2 separate regions of the Homo sapiens genome follow, and region 1 is linked to region 2. The links come from fine-mapping of genetic effects on gene expression. A gene starts in region 2. The other region holds a variant in brackets. All regions are shown on one strand. Distances are between the middles of the regions. Region 1 overlaps LOC102725238 (a long non-coding RNA gene). Region 2 holds the start of CNTNAP1 (contactin associated protein 1).

Evidence for each region. PIP is the estimated chance that this variant, and not a neighbour inherited with it, causes the effect.
Region 1: its variant is the best candidate, but not a certain one, in a credible set for the expression of CNTNAP1 in whole blood (INTERVAL, PIP 0.59).

Annotation. Positions count from the first base shown.
Region 1 is chr17:42,425,055-42,430,422 of GRCh38, reverse strand. It overlaps LOC102725238 (a long non-coding RNA gene), which reads right to left. Exons shown (of 4, transcript XR_007065758.1): 2 at 5,361-5,368. Among named protein-coding and RNA genes, the nearest start is that of CAVIN1, 4.5 kb to the right of the region's middle. The variant T/C (reference allele first, on the strand shown) is at 2,759.
Region 2 is chr17:42,679,805-42,685,143 of GRCh38, reverse strand. It overlaps CNTNAP1 (contactin associated protein 1), which reads right to left and starts at 2,613. Exons shown (of 24, transcript NM_003632.3): 1 at 2,248-2,613; 2 at 1,222-1,323; 3 at 915-1,108; 4 at 6-153. The coding sequence starts at 2,314. It overlaps CCR10 (C-C motif chemokine receptor 10), which reads left to right and starts at 3,301. Exons shown (of 2, transcript NM_016602.3): 1 at 3,301-3,344; 2 at 4,527-5,339. The coding sequence starts at 3,321. RefSeq lists silencers at 1,079-1,373, 3,619-3,913 and enhancers at 2,159-2,208, 2,469-2,518, 2,462-3,080, 4,299-5,147, 5,148-5,339.

The sequences.
Region 1 (5,368 bases), 250 kb after region 2:
AAATATTATAGGCATTTTTCATATATGTATATCAGAGAGACAAGAATAGTGCCTATAAAACTGGCAAAAAAAAAATCACTGTTGTTTGTGGCAGCTGTGAGCCAGCTGCTGAGGGCTAGCCTCCCATGTGAGACGGTTGTCCCAATGTGAAGACACATCATTTGTCCCAGCTGTTTATTATTAACAAAACACACAGTCTCCCTGGGATCTCTCCCAGCACAGATCCAAAACTGAACAGAACATATTACATATTACACCCTTTGCTGGATCTCCCTAAATGTAAACTGATAAGACTTATGGCAGAACCATGATAAGAGGAGATGAGCAGTGCTTGGCTATTCCCCAGTGCCCTTTCACACCGCAAGATACTGGGTTTGGGAGGGGGTCCTTTCCCCCTCCTTTGTACCTACCCTCACCTGTGAACCCTTCCCCACTCTTCCTGAGAGTAGTGACTGCTTTCCCTATGCTGGGGGGGAGCTTTCAGCTGTGTCAGACACTATGCATCTGGCCAGGTGCAGAGTTTCACACCTGTAATGCCAGCACTTTGGGAGGCCGAGGTGAACAGATCACTTGAGCCCAGGAGTTCAAGAGTGGCCTGGGAAATATGGCAAAACCCCATCTCTACAAAAAAAAAAAAAAAAAAAAAATTTAGCCAGGTGTAGTGGCATACAGCTGTAGTCCCAACTACATGGGAGGCTGATAGGAGGCTCACCTGAGCTCAGGAAGTCGAGGCTGCAACAAGCTGAGATCGCACCACTGCACTCAAGCCTGGACAACAGAATGTGACTTTGTCTTTAAAAAAAAAAAAAATGCTGGGGGTGGCCAGGCGTGGTGTCTCATGCCTGTAATCCCAGCACTTTGGGTGGATCACCTGAGATCAGGTGTTTGAGACCAGCCTGGCCAACATGGTAAAACCCATCTCTACTCAAAATACAAAAATTAGCTGGGCATGGTGCTGTGTGCCTGTAATCCCGGCTACTCAGGAGGCTGAGGCAGGAGAATCACTTGAACCCGGGAGGCGGAGGTTGCAGTGAGCCAAGATCGCGCCACTGCAGTCCAGCCTGGCAACACAGCGAGACTCCGTCTCAAAAAAAAAAAAAAGGCCGGGTGCAGTGGCTCACGCCAATAATCCCAGCACTTTGGGAGGCCGAAGCAGGCGGGTCACCTGAGATCAGGAGTTCAAGACCAGCCATGGCCAACATGGCGAAACCCCAACTCTATAAAAATTAGCCAGATGTGGTGGTGGGTGCCTGTGATCCCAGGTACTTGGGAAGCTGAGGGAGGAGAATCTGGGAGGCAGAGGTTGCAGTGAGCTGAGATGGCGCCACTGTACTCCAGCCTGGGCAACAGTGAGACTCCGTCTCAAAAAAAAAAAAAAAAAAAAAAGGACTAGACTTGATTTATCCTCATTAAAGTCCCTAGCCCAGTAAATGGCTAGTGCGAAGTAGTCATGTTTTATTGAACAAGTAGATGGATGGAAGAATACGATAGAGCACCCTGTAAGATTCTAACTGCTGACATGTTGCATCCTGGTGTCCTTTTTCTGGGCCAAAGGGGTTGTTTGCTTTTACCTCACTATCCCTTTTATGGATTCTGTCTCAGTGGCTGAAAGCACACAATGGAACAGTGTGCCTTTCAGCAAGCAAATAGAGTGAGCAATGGAAAATGCAAACCAACAACCCTGAATGCAGGCAATGGCATGCTGAATGCAGTTACAAATGAAGAGAAACTGCTTATTTTCACTGGAATGGAGTGAAATGCTCTGGAAAGGACTGCTCTGCTCCAGTTTGCGGCATCTGTGCTGGTGGAGCTAGTACAATATGCCTCAGCATGCCCCCTGTTGGACTTAGCTGGCATTTAGTAAGAAAAGGAATGTGAGAGAAACTTGTTGATGCAGATTTTTCTCCAACATAGGCATGCAGGGGTAGGGCCCTTTTACAGAAATCATCCATTAAGGAGGCATTAAATGAGTCAGAGATGTATTCACTGGACTACCCCTGGGACATAACTTGACTCATCCACAAATTCTGACATTCCTGTTTGAAGAAGTGGTATAGAAATACTTTCCTGATGAGGCTGGGCACAGTGGCCCATTCCTGTAATCCCAGCACTTCAGGAGGCCAAGACGGGAGGATCACTTGAGCCCAGGAGTTCAAGACCAGCCTAGGCAACGTGGCAAAACCCCATGGCTGGGACTCTGTCTCTACAAGAAATTTAAAAATTAGCCAGGTGTGGTGGTGTGTACCTGTGGTCCCAGCTACTCTGGAGGCTGAGTTGGGAGGATTGCTTGAGCCCAGCAGTTCGAGGCTGCAGTAAGCCCTGATTGAGCAACTGCACTCCAGCCTAGGCAACAGAATGAGATCCTGCCTCAAAAGCAAAAAACAAAAACAAAAAAATCCCACTTGTCTTCAGCAACTCCTCCCCCATGAGATTTAAATTGTAATCTGTAAATGTCCATTGATAGGGAACTGGTTAAACAAATATAGTAGACGTATACATTGGAAAACAAGGCAGTTCTACATGTACTGATATGGAACTATCCATAAAACATATTAATAACTGAAAACAGGAAAGTGCTGAAATATATATATGTATGATCATATATGCAGAAATAGTCTATAGAAGATTCCGCAAGAGAATAGTAATAATAGGCTTGGCATGGTGGCTCACACCTGTAATCCCAGCACTTTGGGAGGCCGAGGTGGGTGAATCATCTGAGGTCAGGAGTTCAAGACCAGCCTCGCCAACATGGTAAAAC[T/C]CCTTCTCTACTAAAAATACAAAAATTAGCCAGGCGTAGTGGCACATGCCTGTAATCTCAGCTACTTGGGAGGCTGAGGCATGAGAATTGCTTGAACCCGGGAGGCAGAGGTTGCAGTGAGCCGAGATGGTGCCACTATACTCTAGCCTGGGAAACAAGAGCAAAACTCCACCTAAAAAAAAAAAAGAGAATATAGTAATAATTGATGTCTCCTGGAAAAGAAACTAGTTGCTGGGATAGAGATAAAATTTTTTAGAGGCCGGGTGCTGTGGCTCATGCCTGTAATCCCAGCACCTTGGGAGGCCGAGGTGGGTGGATCACCTGATGTCAGGAGTTCGAGACCAGGCTGACCAACCTGGTGAAACCCCGTCTCTACTAAAAGTACAAAAAATTAGCTGGGCGAGGCCAGGCACAGTGGCTCACGCCTGTAATCCCAGCACTTTGGGAGGCCGAGGCAGGCGGATCATGAGGTCAGAAGATCGAGACCATGCTGGCTAACATGGTGAAACCCCGTCTCTACTAAAAATACAAAACATTAGCCAGGCGTGGTGGCAGGCACCTGTAGTCCCAGCTACTTGGGAGGCTGAGGCAGGAGAATCGCTTGAACCCAGGAGGCGGAAGGTGCAGTGAGCTGAGATCATGCCATTGCACTCCAGCCTGGGCAACAGAGCAAGACTCCGTCTCAAAAAAAAAAAAAAATTAGCTGGGCATGGGGGCACACACCTGTAATCCCAGCTACTTGGGAGGCTGAGGCAGGAGAATCGCTTGAACCCGGGAGGTGGAGGTTGCAGTGAGCCGAGATTGTGCCATTGCACTCTAGCCTGGGTGACAGAGAGAGACTCCATCTCAAAAAAAAAAATGATAATAATAATAATCATCATCATCTAAGGATCTTATGGGACACTTAAGAAATGAAGGTCCTATAAGGTTCTCTACTGTCACTCCTCTTTTTTCCAAAAGCTTTTTCAATCCTTAGTAGAAGGAATTTAAATTACTTTAATACATTTCTCCTAAATTCTAAAGTAAGTTGGTAATCTGCCAGTTCTAGCAGTTATATGTGTATATATGATCTTATATACTAGCTTAATTCTACTTGAGCCTCAAATGAGAAAGCCATTTGTTTGTGAGAAAACAGTTATTGAAGTGTTAGGGTACCCGGTGTGGTGGCACACCTGTAGTCCAAGCTACTTGAGAGGGTGAGGTGGGAGGATCACTTGAGTCCAGGAGGTCAAGACTGCAGTGAGCTGTGATTGTGCCACTGCACTCAGCCTGCATGACAGAGCAAGACCTTGTCTCAAAAAAAAAAAAAAAGTTGGAAAAAACACAAAGCCGAAGTGGCTCACGCCTGTATTCCTAGCATTTTGGGAGGCCAAGGCAGGTGGATCCCTTGAGCCTAGGTGTTTGAGACCAGCGTGGGCAACACGGTGAAACCCCATTTCTACAAAAAATACAAAAATTAGCTGGGTGTGATGGTGTGCGCTTATAGTCACAGCTATTTGGGAGGCTGAGGTGGGAGGATCACCTGAACCCGGGAGTTCGAGGCTGCAGGGTCAACAGAGTGAGACTCTGTCTTAAAAAAAAAAAAAAAAAGGCGGGGCACAGTGGCTCACACCTGTAATCCCAGCACTTTGGGAGGCCAAGGTGGGTGGATCACGAGCTCAAGAGATTGAGACCATCCTGCCCAACATGGCGAAACCCCGTGTCTACTAAAAATACAAAAAAAAAATTATCTGGGTGTGGTGGTGCGTGCCTGTAGTCCCAGGTACTCGGGAGGCTGAGGCAGAAGAATCGCTTGAACCCAGGAAGTGGAGGGTGCAGTGAGCCAAGACTGCACCACTACACTCCAGCCTGGCAAAAGAGTGAGACTCCATCTCAAGAAAAAAAAAAAAAAAAAGGAAAAAAAGAGGTTACCAGTAACCACGTATCTTGCCTTTCTAGCAGAAACAGTACTTCAGGATAACCTGATAAACAGCCCTAGTTGATGGCTCCATTTTCTATGAGAATTTCGGATAACAAATATGGTGTTGTAAACCCTTAAAAAACCCTACAATGTTGTTAGGGCACTAACCCAGTCCCTGCACTGTCGGTCTCCTTTCTGAGTTTGTGGGTTCTCTGTCTGGGTTGAGGAGGCCCTGGGTCCCCATAGACCAGTTTTTCACTCTTCCTAATGATAATGGATACCAGACTAGAAGTGACCTTTTGCCAGGACCATCATCCAGCCAGCTGGGGAAACCCAAGTGTGGTTTCCTAAGGAGGGAAAAGGGTTGCCGCTTTTCTGTGGGAAAGGGAGCTGGCGCCACTTCAGACACTCACAGCACCAGTGCTGTGCTAGACAGCAAAATGGGGGAGGATGGGCAGCCTCCCTATTTCTGGACTTTCTGCACTAAGGACCCTCCTTGGGCCTGCTCAGAATTGCCTGCTCCCTTGTACCCAGCATGGATGAAAATATGCTTTGGTTAATCTTCTGAAACAGCACATGGGAGTTGGGGAGTGGCTGTGGGTGCCTGTCTCCCTGCCCCAGTGGAAGGCTTAGAGCAGAAGGTGGAAAGAGCATGAAAGCAGGAGTCCAGACCTGGGTTCAAGTGCCAATGCCAACACTAACCTGCGAGT
Region 2 (5,339 bases):
CTTACTGTATGGGCAGCCATAGAGGCCGAGCCTCAGGCCGATCTTGCCGCGTGGGTTCCAGGCCAGGGGCACGATGCGGATGTAGCGCGCAGTGAAGTGGAAGTGCAGGTCATGGCGCACCACCGCCGACTCGTTCACGTTACCAAAGAAGGTCTGCGGGGGTGGAGGAGAGTAGTAACCACGTCCTGCCCTCTGCTTCTTTTTTTTATTTTATTTTTTGAGACAGAGTCTCGCTCTGTCGCCCAGGCTGGAGTGCGGTGGTACGATCTCGGCTCACCGCAACCTCTGCCTCCCGGGTTCAAACAATTCTCTTCCTCAGCCTCCCAAGTAGCTGGGATTACAGGCGCCCGCCACTACGCCCGGCTGATTTTTTTGTATTTTTCATAGAGACGGGGTTTCACCATGTTGGCCAGGCTGGTCATGAACTCCTGACCTCGTGATCCACCTGCCTCGGCCTCCCAAAGTGCTGGGATTACAGGCGTGAGCCACTGCGCCCGGCCCCCCTCTGCTTCTTTCTCCATAGCCTCCCAGCCCACAACTTTCACACCCAGCCAATCTCGACTTCTGGAAAGTAAACACTCCTTGGTCTTCCCTGCTTGGCGGCTTTGCCCGCACAGTTTCCATAAAGTGCCCTGTCCCACAATCCTATTATTTCCTCAGACCTGAAATCAAATGTCACCTCCTTAGGAAGCTCTCCCAGGTTTTACCCTAAAGTGTGTTAAACCCTGTGAACCGAGTGTTTCGCGCACGTCCTAAGCTGACAGTCCCTCTGGACAGAGTCCCTGGAGTGGAGTCACTGCTCCTTGTCCGAGCCCTCACCACCACCCCCTCCATTTTCCCAGAGGCTGGTGCCCGGCCCAGAGCCTGGAGCAGAGGAAGCTCCCCAAGTGTTACCGCCTTGGCGCCCAGAGTACCGAGTTGTGCCCTCGCTGGTAGAACGGTGTCCAGCTGTCCACTCGGTCGCCGTAGAGTAGCATGTAACGTGTGACCCAGTCCCAAGAATTAAAGGAGCCCTGTGTGGCCACGGCCCGGATCCGGTGCTTCTTCATTAAGTCTATCTGGAGCCAGGGATTCGGATCCCCAATCCGTGGTGACCACCCGCTTATGCCTATAGAAAGGACAGGAGCTTTAACCGGCTATCCCTCTCCCCGAAGTCCTCCGGAGGCCCCCACCCTTCCGCGGTGCGCTGCCAGTTGGCAGCTGATGTTCCGCGGAGCTCACCGTGCAGCCTGGCGAATCTCGGCGCAGTAAGGAGACTGTAGTAGGAGGAGGCGCCCAGGGAGCGTGCATACAGGGGACCCACCAGCTCCTCGTCGCAGCCGTCTAGGGTAGGGAAACCGACTGTTAGTCAGCGCTGGCCCCTCCCAGACCCTTCCAAAGGCCGGCCCACTTAGCGACCGAAGCTTCCCCTTCCGTGCCCCCAACCCCCGCCCCCAGAGGCACACCCAGCCCTACCTTAAAGCCATCTATTCAATCCTGGCTGCAGCAACAGCTGCATGCTCAGAGGAGGCTACCTTCTCCTTCTAGGCAAACCCCTAGGCTACACCTATAGGCCCAAGGCCAGACCCTCCCTAGCTAGCCCAATACCTGCCCTGGTTTAGTACTTTCCCAAACTCAATCCTAAACCTCAGCATCTTCCACAACCTAAGTCAACCCAAGACACCAATCCAGCTCCAACCCTAGCCTCAATCCAACTCGGCCCCCAAAACCTGCACCATCCCCAAATACAGGCCTTGCACCCAACCTCAGCCAGTGCTAGCACCATCACCAGCTCCATGTCCAGCCTTAGCATCAGTCAGGGGCACCAGCTCCTGCTTGGATCCCTGCCACAAAACCCAGCCCCAGCCACAAACCCCAGCCCTAGCCACAAACCCCACCCCTTGGCCAGCTCCAAAGTCCAGCCTTAAGCCCTGGCAAAACCTTAATCCTAGTATCGGTCACCAGTATACACTTATCCCCCAGCCCTAGCCTCAAACCCAGGCACCAGCTCCTGCTTGGATCCCAACCCCAAATCCCTGCCCGCTGACTTCATCCTCTTCCCAGAGCCCAGCCCCAGCCCCGGGCGCGCGCGGCAGCCTCAGAGCTGCAATGCGGAGCGCGGGGGAGAGGCAGGAAAAGATGAGAGCCAGCGGGCGCGCGCCGGCCGGGAAGGACCCGCGACCACCCAGCCGCAATGCGGTTCGGGGCCGCCCTGCAGGCTCTGGACTCCTGGGCCCAACCCCACCTGCCTCCAAGCCCAACACTCACAGTAGCCCCAGCCCTCGGCTCCTGAGACCGCGGCGAGCAGGATGCAGAAGAGCCGGAGATGCATCATGCAGGGCTGACGGTCCCGGCAGCCGCCTCCCTGTGAACGGCTCCGGCTAGGGCTCGAGTTCTGGCTTGGGCTCCAAGCTCTCCTCCTGGGGTTTGCAGCAGACCGCTCTCTCCTCCTTACCCACCCTTCCCTCCCTCTCTCCTTTCGCCCCCAAGCGCTCTGTCTCTCCTCTCTCTTTTCTCTCTCTCTCTCTCTGGTTCCTGGTCCTCCGCTCTTCTCTCTCTATCCTCTCCTTTCCACCCTCTTTCCTCTCACCTCCCCCCTTCCCCAGCCTCTGTCTCCTGGCACGCGCCGGTTTCCCGGACCCCGCGCAAGCGCGTGCCTCAGCCCTGCTGCGAAAGGGCGGGGGTAGAGAGCCTCTCGCCACCGGGAAAACCCCAAGTAACCCGAGGCTGCCCGGGACTAGGGCCACAGGAGTGAGGACAGGGAACCTAGGGCCAGAAGCATCCTGAAAATTTCAAGAAAAGGGAGGTGGTTTGGGGGAGGGGTGCCTGGAAATGGAATGAAGGGTAAGTAAAAGAATCTTAACATTTTCGGAAGGCAAATTATGCTCTAGGAGTGGTGCTGGGCACTGTGAATTTAGCATTTTTGCCCTACTCCACTTTGCAGATGAAAAACCTCAGGCTCAGAGAGGTCAAGAAACTTAGTCAATATCACACAGCAAATGATTATATTCCGAAGCCCGTTCTTTCTTCACTGACAAAGACAGTAAATTATTTTTTCTTTCTTTCGTTCATTCTTTTTTCTTTCTTTCCTTCCTTTTTTTCTTTCTTTCTTTCTTTCTTTCCTCTTTCCTTCCTTTCTTCTTCTTTTTTTTTTTTTCGTAAAATCCAGATCCTGCACAAGAGAGTGAAGTCTTTTGGAGGAGGTGGAATGGGAAAGTGACCCCGTAGACCCTAATCCCCACCTCCCTCTCGGCCCCTCTCCCCGCCTCTTCCTTCCTGTCCCGCTAGTAGTTTAACTTCTACCCCCTGTGGCTATACCTCAGAAACCTGTGTAGCCAGAGATGGGGACGGAGGCCACAGAGCAGGTGGGAGTGGGGGCAGGGAGGGGGAGAAGGGTTACAGAGAGGGAGGAGACAGGGAAGGAATGGGATTCCCCACCTGGCAATGGGCCTCTGCCATCCTATGGCTTATTCAGGATTCTTGGCGCTGTCTCAGACTAGGGGTCCTCCAGATAAATGGGCTGGTGGTGTGAGGCTGGGGTTGTGGGACAGGGACTAGGGCTGAGGGGAAAGGCGGGTTGAACCTAGAGGTCCAGGGTCCCACCTGGGCCCTGAAAACCTGAGTCCCAACCCTGGAGACCCCCTTGGCATGAGTGGTTCAGTGTGCTGGTATTGGAGGTACAGGGAAGGTGGGTATGGAAGGGAAAGAAGAGAAACAGAAACCCACTCCAGACGGAGGTTGGAGTCCAGGGCTCAGGTCTGAGGCAAAGCCTGCATATGGGCATCCTTCCAGGAGAGGGCGCTGCAAAGGGAACTGAAGCTGTAGGATTTATTAATAATACAAACTTTGGGCTGGGCGTGGTAGCTCAGGCCTGTAATCCCAGTACTTTGGGAGGCCAAGGTGGGCGGATCACCTGAGGTCAGGAGTTCGAGACCATCCTGGCCAACATGGTGAAACCCCATCTCTACTAAAAATACAAAAATTAGCTGGGCGTGGTGGTGGGCGCCTGTAGTCCCAGCTACTTGGGAGGCTGAGGCAGGAGAATCTCTTGAACCCGGAGGCGGAGGTTGCAGTGAGCCGAGATCGTGCCACTGCACTCCAGCCTGGGCGACAGAGCAAGACTCTGTCTCCAATAATAATAATAATAAATAATAATAATAATACAAACTTTGTATTATGGCCTTTGGAGAACACAGGTTCTCCCCATCCATTATTTTCCATATTGCCATCTTCACAGCAAACCTTGAGAGGTGGGCTGGTCAGGATTTATAATCTCAACATTACAGGTTAGGTAACTGAGGTCTAGAAAGAGCAAGTGGCTTGCTCAAGGTCACCCAGGAAGCTGGAAGCAGAGGTAGGAGGGGTGCAAGGGAAGCCAAGGCCTGCTGAAGGTGTGCTAGGAAGAGTCTGGAGAAGAGCTTATGTCTCCCCGTGTACTGTTACATCTGGCCACACAGGAGCTCTCAGCTTGGAAGGCAAGTGTGGGCGGGGGAGTTGTGTGGTCAGATGTGTCTCATAAGATCCCGCCTCTCATTTGACCCTCCCAGGTTTCCTGGGGCCATTACTCTGGGGATGAAGAGGACGCATACTCGGCTGAGCCACTGCCGGAGCTTTGCTACAAGGCCGATGTCCAGGCCTTCAGCCGGGCCTTCCAACCCAGTGTCTCCCTGACCGTGGCTGCGCTGGGTCTGGCCGGCAATGGCCTGGTCCTGGCCACCCACCTGGCAGCCCGACGCGCAGCGCGCTCGCCCACCTCTGCCCACCTGCTCCAGCTGGCCCTGGCCGACCTCTTGCTGGCCCTGACTCTGCCCTTCGCGGCAGCAGGGGCTCTTCAGGGCTGGAGTCTGGGAAGTGCCACCTGCCGCACCATCTCTGGCCTCTACTCGGCCTCCTTCCACGCCGGCTTCCTCTTCCTGGCCTGTATCAGCGCCGACCGCTACGTGGCCATCGCGCGAGCGCTCCCAGCCGGGCCGCGGCCCTCCACTCCCGGCCGCGCACACTTGGTCTCCGTCATCGTGTGGCTGCTGTCACTGCTCCTGGCGCTGCCTGCGCTGCTCTTCAGCCAGGATGGGCAGCGGGAAGGCCAACGACGCTGTCGCCTCATCTTCCCCGAGGGCCTCACGCAGACGGTGAAGGGGGCGAGCGCCGTGGCGCAGGTGGCCCTGGGCTTCGCGCTGCCGCTGGGCGTCATGGTAGCCTGCTACGCGCTTCTGGGCCGCACGCTGCTGGCCGCCAGGGGGCCCGAGCGCCGGCGTGCGCTGCGCGTCGTGGTGGCTCTGGTGGCGGCCTTCGTGGTGCTGCAGCTGCCCTACAGCCTCGCCCTGCTGCTGGATACTGCCGATCTACTGGCTGCGCGCGAG